Homo sapiens: one gene and its partners. Changing the gene in region 3 together with the main gene of any one other region gives a genetic interaction. Each region holds a gene or a part of one and is shown on either strand. Other genes may lie near its edges. The genes, in order: KCTD10, SDHC, PTCD1, GATB and MAPKAP1.

Region 1 (4,715 bases), on a different chromosome or scaffold from region 3:
ACTCCCAGTCCCATTTACAAAAATAACGTTTGTGTTTTACCAGTTATAGTTGTAGTACCCATTCATTATAGAAAATCTGGAAAAGCTAGACAATTCTTTTTCAGTTTCAGGGAATAGTTCAAACAAGTTATGTGCTGTCAGTGCCCTGCAGCCAAAAAGCACGAGGAGCATACCTGTAGTCAAGCAAAGTTGGGTTTATTTCCTTGTTGCATTGGGGTGGGGAAGAACTGTGGGACATCTCAGAGAAGGGCTGTGGGCTTGTGTTGGGTGATTTGAGAGACAGTTCAGAGAAGTGGGGCTTTGCTCTGTGTTGGATGCTGCTGGGAAGCAGGGCTAATTCTGTGATTGGGTCTCAGTGATTCCTGACTTGAAAGCAGGAAGAATGGAAGGAGGCTAAACCTCTCATTGGTAAAGCAGCAGCTATAACTCCTATTAGCCAGGATAGGGGATCTTTGGTCATTTTTGTATTTTGGATAATGTTTATGTTTTTGTCTGTGTCCGGACATGATGACTGAATGGTCCTGTTTTTGTCTTGTCGCAAGGGCACAGAGTGGCCTTGTCTGAGGGTGATGTGCTGTGAAAAACTGTTGATGTTCAATGGGAATGGTAGGGCCAGCCGTGGGGGCTACCCCAGATTCAGCAAAGATTCTGCCCACCCTTGCACATCTCCACCTCTACAGTTTTACCTGTTCATTTCAGACATGTTTGCTCTGAGTACACATGTGCCGGATACCAATCTCACTTTCCAGGCCTGCGTAAATCAGCCACTGTATCCATTTCTTTGAGATGTACAGAGAGTCAGCCATGCTATCAGGGAGATGGTAGTGGGATCTTGCTCTTTTGGGCAGCACTAGTCTAGGAGGTCTAATTTTGCAATAACTTGGTTCCAAAAGTTTCCATGTCTGTTGTTTAGTCCTCAGAAACACCTTCTCCCTACAGGAAGTGATAGGAGTGCCAGCTGGAATCCCATTCAACTTCATAAAGCTTATTTCATCTGTGATGCAGCTGAAAAATGACACTTAGCTAGCTATTGAGTGGTACATGGCAATAAGGAAATGTAAAGAGACCTGGGCAGTGCTTTAGGCTGTTTTAGGGTGCAGCCAGGGTGTTCATGTATACAGGTGCTAGGCAGAAAGGAAGTGCTTATAACACAAGAGTTAGGGGCACCCTTGTGCCTGCAGGGTCGACAGGCAGGGTCAGTGTATGAGGCTTTTTGGGTGGGTTTTGGGACAAACTAGGGGATGCATGGCCCTCTCTAGGGGTCATCCAATACCCCAGCTCTGACCAGTTGTTCCCCTGCTAGCCCAGTTGGCCTCTGATTTTAGGAGAAGCCAGAAGTCCAGATTTTTCTGTGAGCTCTCCTTAGTTGTCCACATTGGAAGCAAACTTTTAAATGCTGTGTATGCGTGGCCCAAGCAAAACACATCTGGAGGCCAGATTGAATCCACAGGCTGAAAGCAGTCAACCAGGCCTGATGTCATGACCCTGTATCCTCTCCACTGGCAGGAAGAGATGTCAGGAGAAAGTGTGGTGAGCTCAGCGGTGCCAGCGGCTGCTACCCGCACCACTTCCTTCAAGGGCACGAGCCCCAGCTCCAAATACGTGAAGCTGAATGTGGGTGGAGCCCTCTACTATACCACCATGCAGACGCTGACCAAGCAGGACACCATGCTGAAGGCCATGTTCAGCGGGCGCATGGAAGTGCTCACCGACAGTGAAGGTAAGCTCACCCACCATGTGCCTGCCTCTGGCCATGCGTTATGTGGTCAAGGAGGGCTTCCCTGAAGAAGTGACATTTAAGTCGAGACCTGAAGATGTGTAGGAGGCAGCTTGTTGGGGACTCCCACCATCTTGACTTGGTCGTTGATTTGCTATGTTACTTTGAGAAAGTCACTTCCTCACCCAGGGCTTAGCTTGCTTATCTCTGCCATGCTTCTGTGACTTCAGAGTGAAACTCAAGCCTGGGGGAGAGAGAGGTATCTTCCCTGGACCCTTGTCCTCCCAAGATGGGGTCTTGACAAAGACTTGCCAACCTGGGTTTCAGTCTCAGCTCCCCATTAGTATCTGGTGATCCTAACCAAGTGGCCGAAGCTTTTGGTCTCATTTTCTTCCTCTGGTGAAATGGGCATGACAATACCCTCCCCCGTGGGGCCATCGGCACATAGTCAGTATTCAGTGCATGTGTGTATATGTGTGTGTGTAGATAGATAGATAGATATACACACACACACACACGTTTTTCTTTTTCTTGTGGAAAGTCATGTTATTAAAAGGCAAAGAATCGGCTGGGCACAGTGGCTCATGCATGTAATCCCAGCACTTTGGGAAGCTGAGGCGGGCGGATCACGAGGTCAGGAGATCGAGACCATCCTGGCTAACAAGGTGAAACCCCATCTCTACTAAAAATACAAAAAATTAGCCGGGCGTGGTGGTGGGTGCCTGTAGTCCCAGCTACTCGGGAGGCTGAGGCAGGAGAATGACGTGAACTCGGGAGGCGGAGCTTGCAGTGAGCTGAGATCGCGCCACTGCACTCCAGCCTGGGCGACAGAGCGAGACTCCGTCTCAAAAAAAAAAAAAAAAAGGCAAAGAATTGTTGAGAGGGGCATTGTCATAACTACTTCCTACTCACCTGGAATGATCAAAGAGCCCCTGACAACAGGGCTCCATCCTTACCTGGCTGGGTTTGCGTGCAGGTCACATGAGGTTTAAAAATAGTACCATCCTTCATTCCTTGGCCTGAGATTGCTTAAGACCAGGCCAGGGCACAGCCTGGCTTGACCTTGACCCCGCCTTCCTGTTTCTGAGACTGGTCTTCTGTGCTGCTGCCCTACCTTTCCAGGGACATTGACTTGGGAGGGTGGGTGAGTTTTCACATAAGCGGGTGGGATTGGGGGACCTAAGCCTGGTGTCCCACAGTTAATTCTCTGATCCTAAGAGGGCTGAGGCTTGGGCTACCCACTGGTGAGGACATTCCTCTCTGTGTCCTGGGGAAGGCCAGGGTGTGGGGCTGGAGGTTCTGCTTCCTGTGAACTCCGGTTTCTGTTCAGGCAGCAGCGAACTGAGGTTGGAGCCCCAAAGCTGCCATCTCACACTTAGCTTTTTATGAGTGGGAGGATCCTCTTTGCTGTGCCACACCCCACATGGCCCGAGAGTATCTGTGGAAATCAAGACAATAGCACCCCCGCTGCTGGAGGAAGCAGGCATTATCTGAGAACCAGGATTGTTGTGGTTTTTCTCATACCCTACCCACTCTCTGGAGGGGCTCAGGAAAGGCTGCTGAGTTGCCTCGAAAGCTGAGGCTCTTCTCCTCGAAAGGCCTCGCCTTGGTGGCCTGATGCCATATCAAAAAAGAAACGGACTCCTCTGTCCCCCTGTCCCCGACTGGACAGAGCATACGAGTGGTACTGGCAGGACTGCTCACCTTCTAAATCCCTGCTATGAGATGTTTTTCTCCTGGTGCTGCCTGGAAAACACAGGTTCTCGGGGGACACAGTGTCATTTTGACACTGCAAACTGTGACTTGTTTCATGTCACCGGAGCTCAGCCCCTGCTTCATATCATTATGAAAAGCTAATGGTATGGCATTTTATGGGGCATTCTTTTCTCTTTTTTTGAGACAGGGTCTTTCTCTGTCACCCAGGCTGAAGTGCACTAGGGCCATCATAGCTCACGGCAGCCTCCATCTCCTGGGTTCAAGCAATCCTCCCGCCTCAGCCTTCTGTGTAGCTGGGAATACAGGCATGCACCACCAAACACAGCTAATTTTTAGAATTTTTTTCTGGAGATGGGGCCTCACTATGTTGCCCAGGCTGGCCTCGAACTCCTGGGCTCAAGCCATCCTCTCACCTCAGCCTCCCAAAATGCTGGGATTACAGGCGTGAGCCACCACGCACAGCCGATGGGTATTGTTTCATTTAATCCTCACCATAACCCTTCGAGGGGTGGATACTGTTGTTGCCATTCCAAGTGAGGAGTCCCCATTTCAGAGGTGAAATGCTTTTTCAAAAGCTGATGGGACTAGAAAAGGTGAAGCTGCTGAACCCAGGACTTGCTGCCTCTTACTGTCTGCTGTCCATGGCTAGTTGTGGGCCTGGTCCAAGGCCAGATCATTTGAGTGTGGCATCCTTATGGTTTAACTGCTGTCTTTGTGCTAAAGCCCTCTGGTGGGGGCCCTCGTGAAGGCCTGGGCTGGTAGGCTGGGTATCTGGCCTTCCAGCTGTTGTCTGTGTCTGGCAGAGCGATCCTGTCGGTCCTTGGAGAGAGCACTGCATAGCCTGACCCATGGCCTGCATGTTGCCTCAAATGCACCCTTGGGTCTACAAACTGGGATAGACTCCCTGCATCCTGCAGCTCTACCCTGGCCTACAGGCTGGAAGCCTGTCAGCTGCAATGAAGTTTGCTACAAATAGGCAGAAATGCCAAGTGCAGCTCAGCCAGGCAGTGAATCCAGCAGTACAGCTTGCTGGTTAAAGGACAGGGGCTTTGAAGGTCCTGAACAGGGGATGTGTCATGTTGCCCAAGAAAGTGATTGCTTCAGGAGAGGGGACCTGGCATCCAGCATGGGGGGAATAGTCTCCTTTTTGCTCTGGGCCCTTCTACCTGATTGAGTTTTGTACTGTGTGCAAGTAACTCCTAAACCAAGAAGAACTTGGATGTTGATGTTAGCCAGGCCTGGGTTCAACACCTGGCTCTGCTGCATGTCACAGTCACAGCCG
Region 2 (3,378 bases), on a different chromosome or scaffold from region 3:
GCTTCCAGAATGAATAGATACAACTTTTCCTCAGGACCACACATCTAGATTAATGTTTCTCAAGGTGTATTCTTCCAAACACTTGCTCTCAGAATGTTGAAAGCCATTGTATGGGCCAAAAAAAAAAAAGTTCTGTGGTCATACAAAGTTCATAAACATTTAACTGCAAGACTTTCTAAACAGTTTTTTTTTTTTTTTTTTTTTTGAGACGGACTCTCACTCTGTCGCCCAGGCTGGAGTGCAGTGGCATGATCTCAGCTCACTGCAAGCTCCACCTCCCAGGTTCATGCCATTCTCTTGCCTCAGCCTCCCAAGTAGCTGGGACTAGAGGCACACGCCACCACGCCTGGCTAATTTTGTTTTTGTATTTTTAGTAGAGATGGGGTTTCATCGAGTTAGCCAGGATGGTCTTGATCTCCTGATCTCGTGATCTGCCCGCCTTGTCCTCCCAGAATGCTGGGATTACAGGCGTGAGCCACTGCGCCCAGCCTCTTACAGTTTACTAATGCACACTGTGAATCTCCAAAAGAGAGATATAATATGCCTGATTTCCTAGATACAGTCAATCTCAGAATCTTTTTATAGAGGGAAACTCTATTTATCAGAGGACTAGTATTCTAAAGGATACTCTGAGATCTAGAACACTATTTCTCAATTTTGTTTTGACTGTGACTCCACTAAGAAATACCTTTAAAACTGGAACCCAATAGATATGTATATATAATATAGCAAAAGTTGATAAAACAATATTTACCATTACTAAGTGGTGCCATATATATACAAGTATATATTTATATATTTTATATATAAATAAACTTCATTAAAAAACATATATTTTCTCCTTTTTGTGGAGAACGGGGTCTCATTATATTGTTCAGGCAGGTCTTGAACTCCTGGACTCAAGCTATCCTCCTGCCTCTGCTTCCCTAAAAGCTGGCATTACGGGCGTGAACTTCTGCACCCAGCCACTCCAGTGGCGCCATCTTGGCTCACAGCAACGTCAGCCTCCCAGGTTCAAGCGATTCTCTTGCCTCAGCCCTGCCAGTGGCTGGGACTACAGGCGCATGCCACCATGCCAAGCTAATTTTTGTATTTTTAGTAGAGATGGGGTTTCACCATGTTGGCCAGGATGGTCTCAAACTCTTGACCTCAAGTGATACACCCTCCTCAGCCTCCCAAAGTGCTGGGATTACAGGCATGAGCCACCACGCCCAGCCCCAGCCTATATTTTCTATTCTATTTAAATTTCTTTTTTTGTTGGTAGCATGCCACTAAATTGGTTTTCTACCAATTGAGTTAAAACCCACTTTTCTTTTTAATACTAAAAAATAGAGATAGACTCTTGTTATGTCTTGCCCAGGCTAGTATTGAACTCCTGGGCTCAAGCAATCCTCCCGCCTCAGCCTCCCAAAGTGCTGAGATTACAGGTGTGAGCCATCTCACCCAGCCCCTACCCCACCACCCACCCCCACTTTTTTTTTTTTAATTTTTTGAGACAGGGTCTCACTTTGTCACCTAGGCTGGAGTGCAGTGGCACAATCTCAGCTCACTGAGGCCTTGACCTCCCAGGTTCAAGCAATCCTCCTGCCTCAGCCTCCCAAGTAGCTGGGACTACAGGCACCCATCACCATGCCCAGCTAATTTTTTGTATTTTTGGTAGAGATGAAGTTTTGCCACGTTGCCCAGGCTAGTTTTGAACTCCTGAGCTCAAGCAATTCACCTGCCTTGGCCTCCCAAAGTGCTAGGGTTACAGACATGAGCTACCATGCCCCCAGCCCCACATTTAACAAAACACTAATTTTGACTCTCTTGTGTCTTAGGGATATTAACATATTAATATTATATTATAAGTCACTAAATGAGCCCATGGGGCAAAAGCAGTCTTCATTTTCCACACTTCCCACATACATGGCGCCTTAACACACACATACACACATACACCCACAGTCTGAATGTAAAACTGCCTAAATTAGGAGTCAGTTCAGAGAAAAGATGGAAGCCCAGAAAAAAAAAAAAAAATCAAGATGAGAAGATGCCTCCACCTCAACCCTCAAATTGCTTCTAACTAGGAGATTAGGAGTCAAGCAGATTCCACAAAGAGTTGTTTTGCTTAAATAAGGACAATGTTTTATAGAGAGTGAGTCCTACTGGGTAGCAGTAGTAGGCAGGGATATTCCCTAGAATGCCACAGACCCTATAACATCCTACTCTTTCACTCCTCACTCCCCCATTAGATCTTCTGGCAAGTCAACTATCAAGTTCAGAGGCCAAAAACTGCAGACTGTCACAGAAAACACAAAATCCTGTCCCACACTCACAGCCAGTACTTGCTAGAAGAAAAAATAAAAGCAGACTTAAGGACCCTTAGGTTCTTCACTTCCCTCAACAAAAAGATTACCATCACAGGCAAGAACCAGGGCAGAAAAGCTCTAAGTTCTGCAATTTTATAAAACCTCCCCTCTCTTACCCCCATATTGAGACAAAGACAAATATAGGGCAAGTCTCTGTCTGAGCCAAAATATGAACAGAGGAAGCTGATCAGCTGATTTTCTTTACAGAGCTTTGTTCTGTGGAATAGGAAGTCATTAATGGAAATGTCCTCCCTCTCTACTGCCTCCCCCTCAGGGAAGTAAAAAGTCATTTTAAATCAAACTGAACACTGCCCCAGGGAACAGTTGATACAGACACTTAATTTAATAAGTAATTTAGTCTCTCATTTTTTTTATTCCATTAAACTGTCTATTGGACCAGACTGAAATCCAGAAAGTGCTTGTCTCTAAGGCTATGATTTGGAAGTAATAAAAAGTCAAATTAAGGCAAAAGCATCCATCTGACAGTTGACTCAGATTCAGAAGTAATGAAAATACAGAAAGAACTGAATTTTAATTGCCTTCTTGGAAGCAAAACTAGGGAGACTACAAAATATAAAATCTTTTCTTTTTTTTTTTTTTGAGACTGAGTTTCACTTTTGTCACCCAGGCTAGAGTGCAGTGGCATGATCTTGGCTCACTGCAACCTCTGCCTCCTGGATTCTCCTGCCTCAGCCTCCCAAGTAGCTGGGATTACAGGCACATGCCACCACCCCCAGCTAATTTTTGTATTTTTTTTTTTTTTTTTGAGACGGAATTTCGCTCTTGTTGCCCAGGCTGGATGGAGTACAATGGCATGATCTCAGCTCACTGAAACCTCTGCCTCCCGGGTTCAAGCAAGTCTCCTGCCTCAGCCTCCCGAGTAGCTGGGATTACAGGCATGTGCCACCATGCCCGGCTAATTTTGTATTTTTAGTAGAGACAGCGTTTCTCCATGTTGGTAAGGCTGGTCTCGAACTCCCGGCCTCAGATTATCCGCCCGCCTCGGCCTCCCAAAATGCTGAGATTA
Region 3 (3,995 bases):
GTTTTCTGATGGAGGCAGGGACAGGTGGCAGAGTGGCAGAAGCCCCCTTCCTCTGAGTGCCCAGATTCCACAAGGAGTCCAGGTCAGGGGCTGGTGGGCTGGGGTGCTGCTTCAGCCCTGTGGCCAAAACAGCCCGCTGTAGACTTACCTGGGTTTCACCAGAGGATCCTGTTTACTTAAACTATGGTCTTGTTCTTCCAAAAAAAGAACTTGAAAAAGTAAAATAAACACAAGCCACTGTTCTAGGGCTTTCTGGCTGGCCAAGTGTTGGGCCGCACCAGGCCTGGGGGACAAGACCCTTCTTTCTGGGGGGCTCTGGGCCAGAAGGGTGTGACTCAAGTGCATAGTCTCCTGCCCTCTTCCCCCACCAGAGTGTACCAGCCCAGAGGCCCCCCTGAAGTCCCCAAACAGTAGCAGAGCCACGTCTGCTCATCGCAGGGTCTGTCATGCTCACTTAGCAGAATAACGAGACTCATTCACACCGATTTCTTTTTCTTGATTGGCAAACGTGTGTTGGATTTGCAGAACATATTATAAATAGACATACAGATGTAACCTCGGTGTCAACAGCAGCTGGTTCTACCTTCATGAGGGAGCCAAATTTTCCCTGTCCAGAGCTGTCAAGGAAGGGTTTCTGAGGTGTGTCCCTATATGGCATGGTGGCAGGTCCTTCGTGGGAGGGTTGCCACATATGTGAGTGTGCAGGGGCGAGCGTGGCGCAGTGGCATCGTCTCACTGTCCTCCTCCGTTGCAGGGCCGCATCATCGAGTGCACACACTGTGGCTGTCGTGGCTGCTCTGGCTGAGGCTGGCGCGCTCCACCCTGGACTCTGGACTTCGCAGGTTCCTGCCTGTCACGCCACCCCCTTCCTGGGAGCAGCGAGCAGTGCCCCAGGCCCGAGTTGGAGCACGGTCTCTATGGGGAAGGCTTCGCTGTCTATCAGCTGTGATTTGTAAAAATAAAATCTTTAAATCTCTCGAGCCCCACGTCTCTTCTTTCAGAGCATCGGCCTATGGAACCCGGCGGGGCGGCCCAGGCCCCAGGGACCAGATGCCCCAGCCCCCTTGTGGTGTGTGAGGTGACACACAAAGGTAGCTGGAGCTGGAAGTCCCGTGAAGGTGACACGCAAAGGTGGCTGGAGCTGCACTTGGACCTGCTGGGAGCACAGGCACCTTGGGCCTAGTGTGTGTCCTCACCAACACCTGTGACACGCTGCGGCTGTTCCTCAGGGCCTGGCTCTTCCCCCAGGCAGGAGGTGACACCAGCTCACTTGTCCTGGGGCTCCCACAGAGCACTGGGGGCCGAGCACATTGTTCCAGCTGTGCTCCCATCACCTGCCCCCAAGGGCACATCCGTCATCAGCCTCCTTGCCGGTGTCCTGGTCCCCCTGGGGCTTGGTCCGGAACTTCTGCCAGGGGTGCGGGGTTTCCTCTGCGGGCATCACTGTCAGCCACTGCTTGTAATAGGCTCGGAAGCCGTCAATCTTCTCCAGGTAGGTGTTCTTCCCTTGGTACTAGAATTAGAAAAGTGAGGCTAGAATCACTCCTGTTACCTACAGCTAATCCCAAACCTCGGCAGCTGGCTCAGGCCTCAGGGAAGCTGGTGGCTGCCATTTTCCCTTCCAGGTGGCTGCAGAGGACAGGGCAGAAAAGCTGTGAACACGCACTATGGGACTAGCTTACTTCAGAGAAACAGGTCCCCGCTGGGTACCCTGGGGCAGGCCCAGAGCCATCTGCCCAATGGCGTTCTTCCCAAATAGGCACCACTGTGCTCCTCCATCCGCAGTTGCCACCCCAGGCCCCCAAGCCAGAATCACTGGGTCCCACCAGCTCTGCCTCCACAGCCTGCCGAGCCCCTCCCCATCAAAGCCACCTCCCTCTGACCATTATCTCAACACTGCCAAGATAGGCTCCATGAGATATGGGGAAAAAAGCAAAGACACACCAGACACAAACTGAGAGCTGGTAGGGGAATATACCAAAAAAGCCAAAAAGTGCTATCCAACATACAGCTACTACCACACAATGACAAAAGGTTTGGCCGGGTGCGGTGGCTCACGTCTGTAATCCCAGCACTTTGAGAGGCCGAGGTGGGCAGATCACTTGAGGTCAGGAGTTCGAGACCAGCCTGGCCAGCATGGTGAAACTCCATCTCTACTAAAAATACTGGATGTGGCGGTGCATGCCTGTAGCCCCAGCTACCTGGGAGGTTAAGGCAGGAGAATGGCTTGAACCCGGGAGGCAGAGGTTGCAGTGAGCTGAGATCACGCCATTGCACTCCAGCCTGGGCGACAGAGCAAGACTCCATCTCAAAAAAAAACAAAAACAAAAAAAGGTTTGACTCAAAAGACTGGACAATTCTAAACCTTAAGGTGCCGGATAGAGCCTGAAAGCACAGAAAGCAAAACTCAACAGAATCACGAATATAAACAAGTCCACCATCATGAGGGAATATGAGTACAGATGCTCCTGACAGCAGGGTTCCGCCCCCCAAAAACCCATCGTAAATCAAAAATCAATCTGGCTGTGTGTGCTGGCTCACTCCTATAATCCCAGTGCTTTGGGAAGCCGAGGCAGGCGGATTACATGAGCTCAGGAGTTCCAGACCAGTTTGGGCAATATAGTGAAACCCTATCTAAAAGATTAGCTGGGTACAGTGGTACATGCCTGTAGTCCCAGCTCCTCAGGTGGCTAAGGTGGGAGGACTTCTTAAGCCTGGGAGGTCAAGGCTACAGTGAGCCATAATCGTGCCACTGCACTCCAGCCTGGGCAACAGAGTGATTCCCGTCTCTTTAAAAAAAAAAAAAAAAAAGAAAAAAGAAAATGCGGCACGGCATGGGGGCTCACAACTATAATCCCAGCACTTTGGGAGGCTGGGGTGGGTGGATCACGAGGTCGGGAGTTCAAGACCAGCCTGGCCAAGATGGTGAAACCCCGTCTCTACTAAAAAAAAAAAAAAAACCACAAAAATTAGCCTGGTGTGGTGGCAGGCTCCTGTAATCCCAGCAACTCGGGAGGCTGAGGCAGGAAAATCACTTGAACCTGGGCGGCAGAGGTTGCAGTGAGGCCAGATCGCATCACTGCACTCCAGCCTGGGTGACAGAGTGAGACTCCATCTCATAAAAAACAAAAGGAAAATGCATCTATTGCTGGCAACACAGCAGAGGGTCCTGACTTTATAATTATGCAAAAGTGATATACATTCAGTAGAAACTAACCCCGCACAAAGTCGATCCTTACAGAGTTACATCCTGATAAAACCATTGCAAAGTTGAAAAATCCTGTGTAGAATCATCTTTAAGTCAGGGACATCTGTCTGTGACTTAAATATGATATGCTTTAGGTCTATGATAGTCTTGTGACTGTCGAGTTGAACCCCTAGTGAGCCCTACGCCAGAGGGAAGAGACAATCCACTAGGAAGATATGCACAACATGTGATCAACAAAAAACCAGTACCCAGAATATATAAAAAACCCTGGAATCAATGAGAAAAGGCTTGCAACCAACAGTTCAAAGCACAGACACAGTTCAAAAATGCCCAGCTATGCCTTCAGCCAGACACAATTTCCATTGCTGTCCCACCTATTTGTAGGAAGCCCTCAAAATGGCATTCAGGCGTGACACCTGCACGGCGTTCCTGACCCCGCACCCTCTAGCTGTGTGTGTCCCTGCCCATTTACTTGTTTCCGCCCCATCCGGGCTGTGCTTCAAGCCATAGTGGCTCTCGATGCTCCGGAGATGCTCAGCACAGAGTGTGATTCGATGGACCCAAAAGCCAAACCCCAGAGCCTGATAGCCTCAGAACAGCAGGGAGAGGCTGTGGCCGTGACAAAGCAGATTCCATGACTCTGCCCTGCTCCTGCTGATACAGGAGGTTGAAAGAAATTATTTAGGCAGATAATAAGGGCAACAGAGTCCTTGGCGAAATTTCCCTTTTAATAAAAAGCAGCCCCCAAATAATTTCTTTTCTAACAAAGAGCAGCCTGAAAAATCGA
Region 4 (5,219 bases), on a different chromosome or scaffold from region 3:
CAGAGCTGAATGAGAATCAGCCTGGACAAATCAAGTGCTTTAACAAGGGCATCTTCCTCTGGGAATAATCAGTCCTTAATACAGTTTGCACTTGACATAATAGTTTTGGTAAATGTCTTTTTCTGGCTGCACCCCCTTTTAAGTAAGCCTTTAATTTTAAATGGTCTGGAAAGATCTTCGATGCTTTCTGTAAGGTTTAGTCACCAAGAAGCCAGAACTTTTGGTGAAAACAGAATTTATAAAATGAAACTGAACCTTCTCCTTTCTTACAAAATAAAGATCCTGTCAGACTCCAGTCTCAGACCACCTTTGCCCATTTGTAATTCAGACTTGCAGAGTGAGGAGAGAACTGCTTCAGCCTTACTGTCTTGTAGAGAGATTTGGTGAAAATCATGTTACTTTAGACCCAGTAGTTTTCAGGACCGCAACAGGATGCGGGGCACCTGGCTTCCCGGGTAAGGTCACATAGTCTCTTAAAATTCTGTCACTAATTTTTTTAAACGACTTTTTTTAAAAAGCCACCTCCTCATGCCTGTCCAAAATGAACCACGCAACTGGTTACCTTTCTCTGCCTACCTTTTGGGCTGGGGAAGAGGGGCACCTTTCTCATCACTCTCAGGGAAGTCCTGAGGAACTGTGCAAGCCAGGAAGCATGAGTCGCTGAATTGGTGATGGAGGGGTGTCCACTTTTTTCTAGTTCCTCAGCTGCTTCTGGAGCAGTGTTCACAACGGGAATGTTTTTACTGTCCTTGGTAGGCTACAGGTTCACAGCTTCAAATCAAGGCCTCCAAGGATTTTATTCTCTTACATCACAGTTTTGACAAGTATGCTTTTAAAAAACAACATTTGCAAAACTGGTCTTTAAGCGACGTGAGTCAGAGGTAACAAAGGCATATATATACCGAACAAAGGTGCTCCGGTGCAGTGGAGAGAACAGTATTAGTGTCGCAAGCACAGGAGTGCAGACAGCCCCGCCTTCATCGTGATGCCTGCAGCACACCACGATTATCATGAGAGGTCAAGATTTTGATTTACTAATTTATAATCTTATTTCCAAGCAAAACAAGTCAATTTCATGTTACAACTTTTTTCTTGTTTCTTTTTATCTTGTTTGGCCTGAGGGTTGGGGGATTTGGGGGAGTTGTCAGCTGCACAATCTTTGAAGTGTAAGTTAATTTTTATGTGATATTTCAGTATATATTTTATTGATTAAATTTATTGGAAAACTTATTTTTTTAATTCATTTATTCTCAGACTGTGCCTTCTGGGATGGGGAGGGAGTTTAACAGGCAATATCACTTCTACTCAGTCGATAGGTTGATTAATTCTAATAATATCCTCCTTCCCCACCCTCTTGAGACCTCCTTAAACAAACAAATGTGTTTATACTGTGCCAGTTTATTTGGTTGTATTTTCATCTTTGTTAACCTGTGTTTAGGTCTGAAAACAATACATCCAAATTACAGTCTCTCTTGACCACTGCTAATGCCCATCACCTACAATGGCTGGCCCTTAGGAGTTGCTCAAAAATATTTGTTGAAGGAACTGCAGAATGAAAAGTTTTCTTAGAATGGGTAACAGTATCTCCAACATACATTTTATTTAGTTTAAAATTCCTTAATACAAGAAGGTGTTACTCCTTAACCACTGCTGCAGCCTCACCGGACCCTCCTGATGTGGATGAAGCAGGCGGGGTGGCTGCTGGTCGGCTGTGGAGGCACCTCCAGGCACAGGGCCTAGAGGGTGAGAACACTGGTGACATTAATGCCATAGCTGTGGCTTGGGACAGGGATTGAGAGGCAGCTCTCAGGGCACATGGGCATCAGCTTTCACAGGATCCTGTTCCCAGTCAGGCTGCACTGTTTGTTGTTGTCCCTTGGGCAAGGGGATCCCAAACATCTCACAATGACAGCTTCTTCTCCAGGATCTCCTTTATCATGACTGGATCTGCTCGGCTTTGAGTCGCTTTCCGGACCAACCCAATCAGTTTATTTATAGCTCTGGGGTTTCTGTTCTTCACATCCATTACCTAGAAGGACAGAAATTACTTACTTAAGAGGAGAAAATGAAGGGATTCATGCCCCCAAATCCCAAACTAAGGCTTAAGTTTACTGAAAATTAAATTCCGCTTATTTCCACTAGTATTAGACATAAAATGTAGAACAGAAAAAGGGGAGGGGCCTCACTTCTGAGTAGGTTTCTAGGCTCCTGTCAAAGGAGATTTTTGCTACTCTGCTTTCTGATTAAAATGAGCAAGAAGTGATTGCCGAAAGCCAGAGAAGCTGGCACGTGGGAGCCAGGGCCCTCCCCTCTGCGACGCCACAATGACCGAGGACACTGAGTCTGGGGAGGGATAATCTCTCTGAGATGATGAATCACTGCGTCTAATCAGTGAGGACACCTCTCTGATTCTCAGTGATGTTCAGCTGAAATGTGTGGCTTTCCTTCTCCCCCTGCTCCCCACCAAGAAGATTCCTTTATCAGAAAGCAGATCTACACACTGGCCGAGTCTTCCAGAGCGCTGGGTCGGGGGGAGTGTGCTGTGTGGGCAGGGGGAGTGAGGAAGCCAGGAGGTGCTGAATTCCTATCAGATAGCCACTGACTCTTAGGGCCACCACGTGACCTCCTGCTCTGCAGCGTCTCCAAGGGCAATGACATGAGGATCTGCACTCAAGTGCCACAGAACAAGCCTGAAACTACTGGCACGTCTTTATCAGTCACCACAGATGAGGCAGGAAGACGAGGCTGTGGAGGCCCAGTGCAGGCTCATTTTCCTTATCGAGAGCTCTTTACAGAGCTGTGAGTGTCCCCGGCAAGCTGATGGGTGGGTGGGTATTATTCTGAAAAAGATGCCGACAATTTTTTTCCCCACTGAAAAAATATCTCTAGACAATATGATTAGACTTGGGGAGGGAGGGATGCCACTCGTTTTAGCTTTTATGTCTTGTGCTGTGCTAAGAACACAAAATGACCTGGTTTTCAGTCATGCTCCTGTCAGGGATTTTCTCCACAATTTATGAATACTTTTCCCTTCTGCCTTTCTTCCCACCTCTTAGAAGCATGAAGCTGAAGTTCCTGTACTCTCCCTGCTCTGCCGGCACACCTGCTGGTTCTTTACTGGGAGGTCCTTAGGAAGTAGCGCTAACCACAACAGATTCGAAATGCCAACCCTGGGAGAGGGCGACACACCTGGGAGGTCACAGCTTGGATTTCGTGAGCTTGCTGACACCCTTTTAAACTACACCTCCATGGAGAGTAAACTCCAGGGGTGGCATCCTTCTTATAGGAAAAGAAGTTGTGTTTTTCCAATATCCACCTATTTCATCTCTTCTGACCTTAACTAAAAAGATGACAGTGAGGGAATTATTGATGAAACTGGGTCAGCCATTCTTAGGAAGAGCCTCTGGGCTGCCACAGGGAGCGATGGCGAGGCTCTTGGGCATGTCCTGGGGCTGGCTCTGGCCCTCTCCCCTGCCCGAGATAGTCACCACTTGAGGATGGGCCTCCATCACAGAGTGGCAGAGCTGCTCCAGTGCCCCCTGGTCCTGCATCAGTTCAAGCTGCTTTTCTGAAACAATCTGCCCTGGAGTCTTGCCTTCCCTCTTCCACAGTTCCTCAAACACCTATGGACCAGAGAAGGGAGAGGAAAGAGAAATGAGAAGTCAGCTCTTCTGCCAGCTCCATTTGCAGTGCTGTGCTGTGTGGAGCTGGGGTGGGAATGAGCAGATTCAATTAAGTCCCCACTGCCTGGGCCTGGCCCAAAGGGAAAGGGCACCTGGCTGCCCTGCCAGAGCGTTGGCTCTCCTGAGGCATCCCTGAGTGCAGGGCTGGGGAACAAGGCCAGCTAGGTGGAGTGAATGCACCTGGGGTCTCCTCCTGAGGCTGAAGTCTCCCTCAGCATAAGGTGTGAGAGGACTCGGGCCAGCCAGATGCCCTCGTGCCCAGAGGGATGGTGAGTCCTGCCCGGCTGACTCCACATGGCGGGGGGGGGCCGCGGGAGGCGTGGAGGTGCCCATCACTCATGGGCGCCTGCTGACGGGAGTCGGCGGGCCACTGATGGATCTGTCTCATGGCCGCCGAATTAATTGAGGTGACATTTTGGTGAAGGATGGGGCCACACAGCCTGCAGGAGGTAACCACGGTACTAAATAAAGTCCAGAAACAGCATGCTGGGAAAGATGACTTTAGGGAGGCAGGAAAGTAGCCCCGTAATGAAGATACAAAATGGCAAACAACTGAAAACATAAATTAGAATCCACAGGGGCCCCCTGGCCTACCACATTCATCTCCTACAGGTAGAGCCGGACCCAAATCAGACTAGGATAATGAACGCTAATGTTTGGGGCATTTTTTTTTTACTTAAAAAATGACAACAACAAATCCCCAAATTCATCAAACCTGAGAAAAAGGAAACCATTTTCAAGGAAGGCTATTTCCTAGGGTAGCTGTTTTCCTCATTTCTCTTGTCTTCTAGCGAAAGCCAGAATTGGGAGCCGGGAGGAGGGCTTCCTCTGTTGGTCTCCCACCGGTGCCACCTCCGTCCAGTCCACAGTCATGACTGAACACCCAACTTTCCCTGTTACCTTGGTGGCCGAGAACGGGCCAACCAGGAGCCATTCCTCCTGGAAAAACAGAGCTCTTCCATAATTAGCACGAACAGCAAAGCAAATAAAAGGGAGATGCTCTGAGTCTCAGCAGGGCTCAAAGTCTTCCCCAGTCTGATTCAAAAACAAACCACAAATACTTATCACTGCTGGGACAGGCACTGCGCCTTCAGCCTGGTGCCTCAGAACGTGCGCTGTGACTGTGGCCAAGGAGGTGTGCTTGGCAGGTCCTGGGTAAGCTCCCTACAGGGCACCCCTCTGCCGCTGCCCGACTGCTCAGGAAAAGCCTGGCCCTACTCTTAGAAAAATACAGAATGCACGTGCCTCCAACTCAATTCAGCAGATATGTACGTGGCCTGACAATGAGGAAACCATTGGGAGAAAGGGGGCACAGAAGCGGGAAGAAACTTCCTCACTCTCAACATGCTTATCAGTGGAGTGCTGCCAGCAGAAGCACTGGGGACCTGGATGGCGTTCCATGGAGCTGCCCTGTAAGTCGGAGGAGTCCATCTGCCCCCTTTCTCTGACACGTTTATTTTTTGAACTAGGACTTAAATTTTAAAAATCATTTTCTAATAATAAAAGTTAATACACATTCACTGCAGAAAATATAAG
Region 5 (4,715 bases), on a different chromosome or scaffold from region 3:
GTAAAGTACCTAGTAGAGCACGAGGTAGAGGCTGCTATTAGTATAATAAACCTTAATATTATTAGACTTATAATTATTGTGTAACAATGGAGCCAATCCACAAATATTTATTAGGCATCTATTACATGCCGATATGATATTGGGAGGTGCTGGGAGGATACAGAAGACAGACTGCAGATATTTCTTTTAAAGGAGAAGAAAAAGAGAAAGTCTAGGAAACATGATATAACCACTATAAAATATTTTAATAGCATTTTATTTCTGAAATTGTTTTTCTCCCCAAGTCTTTTCTTCTTGCTGAGACTGAAGCTTTGAAAGTATATAATATGGCCAGCCTTTATACACATACTATATGAAAATATACAGCAAATGCTAATAATACCAGCAACATAATGGTTTTTACACTAAGGGAAAAGAATTTGCATATATGCAAAAAAGACTGTTACTAGGCCCACTAATGGGGCAAGGAAAAGTCTAGGTTGGAACTGCCAAGAGAAATCTGTAACCTGGAAACTCATCCAAAATATCACAGGGGCTGGGCGCAGTGGCTCACGCCTATAATCCCAGCACTTTGGGAAGCCAAGGCAGGTGGATCACTTGAGGCCAGGAGTTCGAGAACAGCCTGGCATGGTGAAACTCCATCTCTACTAAAAATACAAAACTTAGCCAGGCATGGTGGTGTGCACCTGTAGTCCCAACTACTTGGGAGGCTGAGGCAGGAGAATTGCTTGAACCAGGGAGGCGGAGGCTGCAGTGAGCCGAGATGGCACCACTGCACTCCAGCCTGGGTGACACAGCAAGACTCCGTCTCAAAAAAAAAAAAAAAAATCGGCTGGGCACAGTGGCTCATGCCTGTAATCCCAGCACCTCAGGAGGCCACGGTGGGTGGATTACTGGAGGTCAGGAGTTCAAGACCAGCCTGGCCAACATGGTGAAATCCCATCTCTACTAAAAATACAAAATTAGCCAGGTGTGGTGGCATGCGCCTGTAATCCCAGCTACTGAGGACGTTGAGGCAGGAGAATCGCTTGAACCGGGGAGGCAGAGGCTGCAGTGAGCCAAGACCGTGCCATTGCACTCCGGCCTGGGCAAAAAGAGTGAAACACTATCTCAAAAAAAATAATAATAATAAAAATCAAATCATAGGGTACTCCTTGGCCTATATTTTTTTAAAAAATCAGAAAAAAATACTGACATGACAGCTTGTAAAAAATGTCCCCTGCACACATCAATCCCTGTGACCCAGAGTGAAGGGTGGCCAAAAAGCCAAGAACTAAAGAGCATATAGCTTCAGAGGGTCAAGGCACACAAGAGAAAGAGCTCAAAGCTCAAAACACTAGAGGTATCTAAGTCCAGAGGATTTAAAAGGATGAATTAAAAATAAAAGTTCTTATATAATAAACTAAATATATAAATCTCAAATTAAGAATTAAAATCATTTCCATTTACCTGATTGCTTAGAATTTCTTTCTTTCCACTGAATATTTTTGCATTTGATCTGGTTTTGTCTCTCTTTTCGGAGTCGTTCTAATCTTTGAGCTTGAAAAGAAATATTATAACTGTAAGTTTGTCAATGAAAGTTTACCATAAACAAAGACATAATTAACTACCTTTACATGAATAAAGATGTTTTATATTGCATATGTAGAGAAAAAGTCATAAAATTTTAAAGGTGGCACCCCTGAAAAGCAAATACCAACAAAAACATGAAAATATTCTTGATTTATAATTGAAATTAGAGGATATAAAACACTAATAGAGATCATAAAGATAGTATTAACATGGAAGAGAATAATAAAATGTGAAAACTTCTGTGATTAATATGACATTTCATTATATAAATCATTAATAACGGTCTTAAAGGAATTTTAATGCACAAATGAACTGAAGTGAATATTACATTACAGGAATAAAATTACTGTTATGAATTACTCTACCCATTTCAAAAATTAAAGATAAATGAACTCAGACTAGACTATTAAAGTTTTAAATATAAAATCCTTTATCTAAAAATCATGAAAATTATAAAATGTCAAAGCTATATAAATTAGCATAGCTTTTCTTCAGTGGGCTGAAACAGTTTATAGGTAGTAAAATAAATGATTTGTATCTTTGTAACATTAGTCAAATCTTAAAAAGAACAATTTTTCTTTTACAAAATTTTAAGATATGCTGCATGGATTAAAAAGTAAATTCTTTGGTCACTAAGACAACCTACAATCTCAATTAATTATTAGCATCTAAGTGCTACCTAAAGAAATTCCAACAAGAGTCACCTAAAATTATGCATTTGTGATTATATTGCCACTGGCTGATCAACCTTCAAAAATCAGTGAACTGATCCTTTAGAGAAATACCACCCAGCATGCACTTAACAACTGCCGCATACAGAGACCACAATAAAAAAGAAAGTCACAATTGATGCCATCTCTTGAAATCAGTTTTCTCTTGCTAATCTTCAGCTTCCTATCCCAGCATTTTGCTAATAGAAAATAAATACATCTCTTTTTCCGCCTCTTTCAAGATAGGAAATTATACACTTCTGCCTTAGCATTGTGGTAGGGAAACACTGAAAATAATCTTACCAGAAATTTAAACTATGCTGGGAAGAGCATTCTGACAATGTCACTATATCTAACCAACACTGAAGAAAACTACATTCAATTGCAATTAATAAATGTGAAGGGTACAGCCAAAGTAATATAATCATAAAGCTCTCAATTTAGCAGCATTCTCCCACTGAAATACATTCAACCTGTCATATAAGATATCATCTCAATAACCTGCAAGGAAGTCAGTTTCAACTAGAGAACTGAAAATCAATGGTTCTAAATTATATTCAAACCTTCACTCAAATCCTATTTTGACAAAAGTTCCTTTAGATACTGGGAAATGCTATTAATTATTTTCATCATGAGAGCAAATTATTCTTATGTCACAGATACTGAATTCTGAACCAAAACTTGAATGTGCCTTTCACAGTAAATTGTATCCAGCTCTACCTCCAATATTCCTTTATGTGTGTTTTACATTTGGACCATGAAAATAAATATGTAAGTATTTTCAGTGTTCTACTATATCTCCTTGCCATTACCTTTCCTGGGAGTTAGCAGGTTACTGCTAATTTGAAGATTATATTTTCTGATTATCTAAAAAAAATTACCTCCTAGAATACCTGTCATATTAGAACTACAATATGTATTCTAAATAATTTGTCTAAGTAAAAAAAAAAGTCCTTGGTTCATCACATTCCCCTTGAAACAAGGCCACCAAAAAAATATAAGTGGGAAAATGGGCAATAAGCTTTTAAAGCTAATGACTAAATACGTGTATACCAAAGTTGAGTGTTTTCAAGCCAGAAAAATCAAAAGGTGATCAATTTAAGAAAATAAAGGCGAAGTATCAAAAACAGGGGCCCCTTTTCTAATCTCACACCCTATGTATAGAATCCTACTAAAACCAGCCCTAACAAATACTCAGGTGTCTCCTCCCATTTCCCCACTCCCCCACAATTCCTCCAGGGGCAAGAAGTGCCTGCTCTCTTTGGGTGGTCACCTCTCTGTATTAAATGCTCTTTATTATGTCAACCTGAAATCTGTCTCCGGGTAGTCTACCTACTGGGACTAATGTTGCTGTGTGAAGACACTCAAAGCCAGTCCACTTGCCTTTCTACACAATGACTTGTTAGAAATGTCCAACATGTCTCTCCTAACCAACTTTTTCACTATCCCCCTTCTGTCTACTTCTAATAATATTCTAGAGGCCCTCTCCATTCGCAGTCGCAGAGATGGAGATGTTGCTCAGACTCACTCTTAGTCTGACATATGCATGTTCCTATTAATACCCGGAAACATCCCCCATTAAGCCTATTCCAATATTATGCATTATTCCATAAGACTGTTTACTGATTTAAAGCTCAGAAGACATGACTAGAACACAATGTTTACCTGTGTTTGAGCGTCTTCTAATACCAAAGTCCCAACTTGAGGTAATATCGACTGACTGGGCATATACATAGCCCTGAGTCTCACCATTGCTTCCCTGAATTTCTGACCCACTGTCTCCAGGCATTGAAGGAGGATGAATCTTCTCTAGGTCAACATCATGATCAATGAGAACCATCTCACACATTCCCGTGTCATCACTGGTCACATGTGACTGTCGAATATGAGCTAGAATGATAGTTGGATTGTCCAAGAAGGCCATCCTTTCTGTGGGCCAATTTCCTTAAAAGGCTATTTTCTCCTCTTCATATTGTTTCACGAGCTCACCTACCTAGAAACATGATGTACACAGCAAATATTTAAGAATAAGGCAGAAAATGACTGAATCATTTTTCAGACACATTCAGTGTAGTAAAATGCCACCTTGAAAATCAACATTTATCCCTGTTCTGTGGAGCTTAAAAGGATTTAGTCTAAGCTGAAAGGAAATCCTTATAAGCACTAGGGGCTGCAGCTCTAGTCAATGAGATCTCTATAGAATCAGAAAGGAAGGCTTGCACTCTTGCAAAACAAATCACAGCAACTCCTTACAAGTCAGGCCACTCGAAGCACATAACTACTGTTAAAACAATATATTTTCCTTTCTTTCTCCCTTCACTATCATGCAATCTTCTCATTACTTTATAAGGTCATGGGGGAACAAGTTGTATTTTCCTCAAATGATGTGCTAAAGTACAAAACTCTATTTCATCAGTTTACATTTCCCCTCCT

The links.
Region 1: changes in PTCD1 (region 3) and KCTD10 together harm fitness more than expected from each alone (negative genetic interaction), as found in Homo sapiens cells (one large-scale study listed by BioGRID).
Region 2: changes in PTCD1 (region 3) and SDHC together harm fitness less than expected from each alone (positive genetic interaction), as found in Homo sapiens cells (one large-scale study listed by BioGRID).
Region 4: changes in PTCD1 (region 3) and GATB together harm fitness less than expected from each alone (positive genetic interaction), as found in Homo sapiens cells (one large-scale study listed by BioGRID).
Region 5: changes in PTCD1 (region 3) and MAPKAP1 together harm fitness more than expected from each alone (negative genetic interaction), as found in Homo sapiens cells (one large-scale study listed by BioGRID).

Annotation. Positions count from the first base shown.
Region 1 is NC_000012.12:109,466,520-109,471,234, reverse strand, and holds part of KCTD10 (BTB/POZ domain-containing adapter for CUL3-mediated RhoA degradation protein 3), read left to right. Parts: intron 1-1,506; coding exon 1,507-1,720; intron 1,721-4,715. UniProt on the Homo sapiens protein: Substrate-specific adapter of a BCR (BTB-CUL3-RBX1) E3 ubiquitin-protein ligase complex. The BCR(BACURD3) E3 ubiquitin ligase complex mediates the ubiquitination of target proteins, leading to their degradation by the proteasome.
Region 2 is NC_000001.11:161,358,670-161,362,047, reverse strand, and holds part of SDHC (succinate dehydrogenase cytochrome b560 subunit, mitochondrial isoform 1 precursor), read right to left. Parts: intron 1-3,378. UniProt on the Homo sapiens protein: Membrane-anchoring subunit of succinate dehydrogenase (SDH) that is involved in complex II of the mitochondrial electron transport chain and is responsible for transferring electrons from succinate to ubiquinone (coenzyme Q).
Region 3 is NC_000007.14:99,418,637-99,422,631, forward strand, and holds part of PTCD1 (pentatricopeptide repeat-containing protein 1, mitochondrial), read right to left. Parts: intron 1,514-3,995; coding exon 1,331-1,513; 3' UTR 806-1,330; coding exon of another isoform or gene 755-805; 3' UTR 538-754; coding exon of another isoform or gene 526-537; 3' UTR 1-525. Other genes in the region: ATP5MF-PTCD1 (ATP5J2-PTCD1 fusion protein), read right to left, coding at 1,331-1,513. UniProt on the Homo sapiens protein: Mitochondrial protein implicated in negative regulation of leucine tRNA levels, as well as negative regulation of mitochondria-encoded proteins and COX activity. Also affects the 3'-processing of mitochondrial tRNAs.
Region 4 is NC_000004.12:151,669,274-151,674,492, forward strand, and holds the end of GATB (glutamyl-tRNA(Gln) amidotransferase subunit B, mitochondrial isoform 1 precursor), read right to left. Parts: exon of another isoform or gene 3,624-5,219; coding exon 3,489-3,623; exon of another isoform or gene 2,316-3,488; intron 2,030-2,315; coding exon 1,901-2,029; 3' UTR 1,231-1,900; downstream 1-1,230. UniProt on the Homo sapiens protein: Allows the formation of correctly charged Gln-tRNA(Gln) through the transamidation of misacylated Glu-tRNA(Gln) in the mitochondria. The reaction takes place in the presence of glutamine and ATP through an activated gamma-phospho-Glu-tRNA(Gln).
Region 5 is NC_000009.12:125,668,369-125,673,083, forward strand, and holds part of MAPKAP1 (target of rapamycin complex 2 subunit MAPKAP1), read right to left. Parts: intron 4,276-4,715; 5' UTR 4,207-4,275; coding exon 3,948-4,206; intron 1,540-3,947; coding exon 1,450-1,539; intron 1-1,449. UniProt on the Homo sapiens protein: Component of the mechanistic target of rapamycin complex 2 (mTORC2), which transduces signals from growth factors to pathways involved in proliferation, cytoskeletal organization, lipogenesis and anabolic output.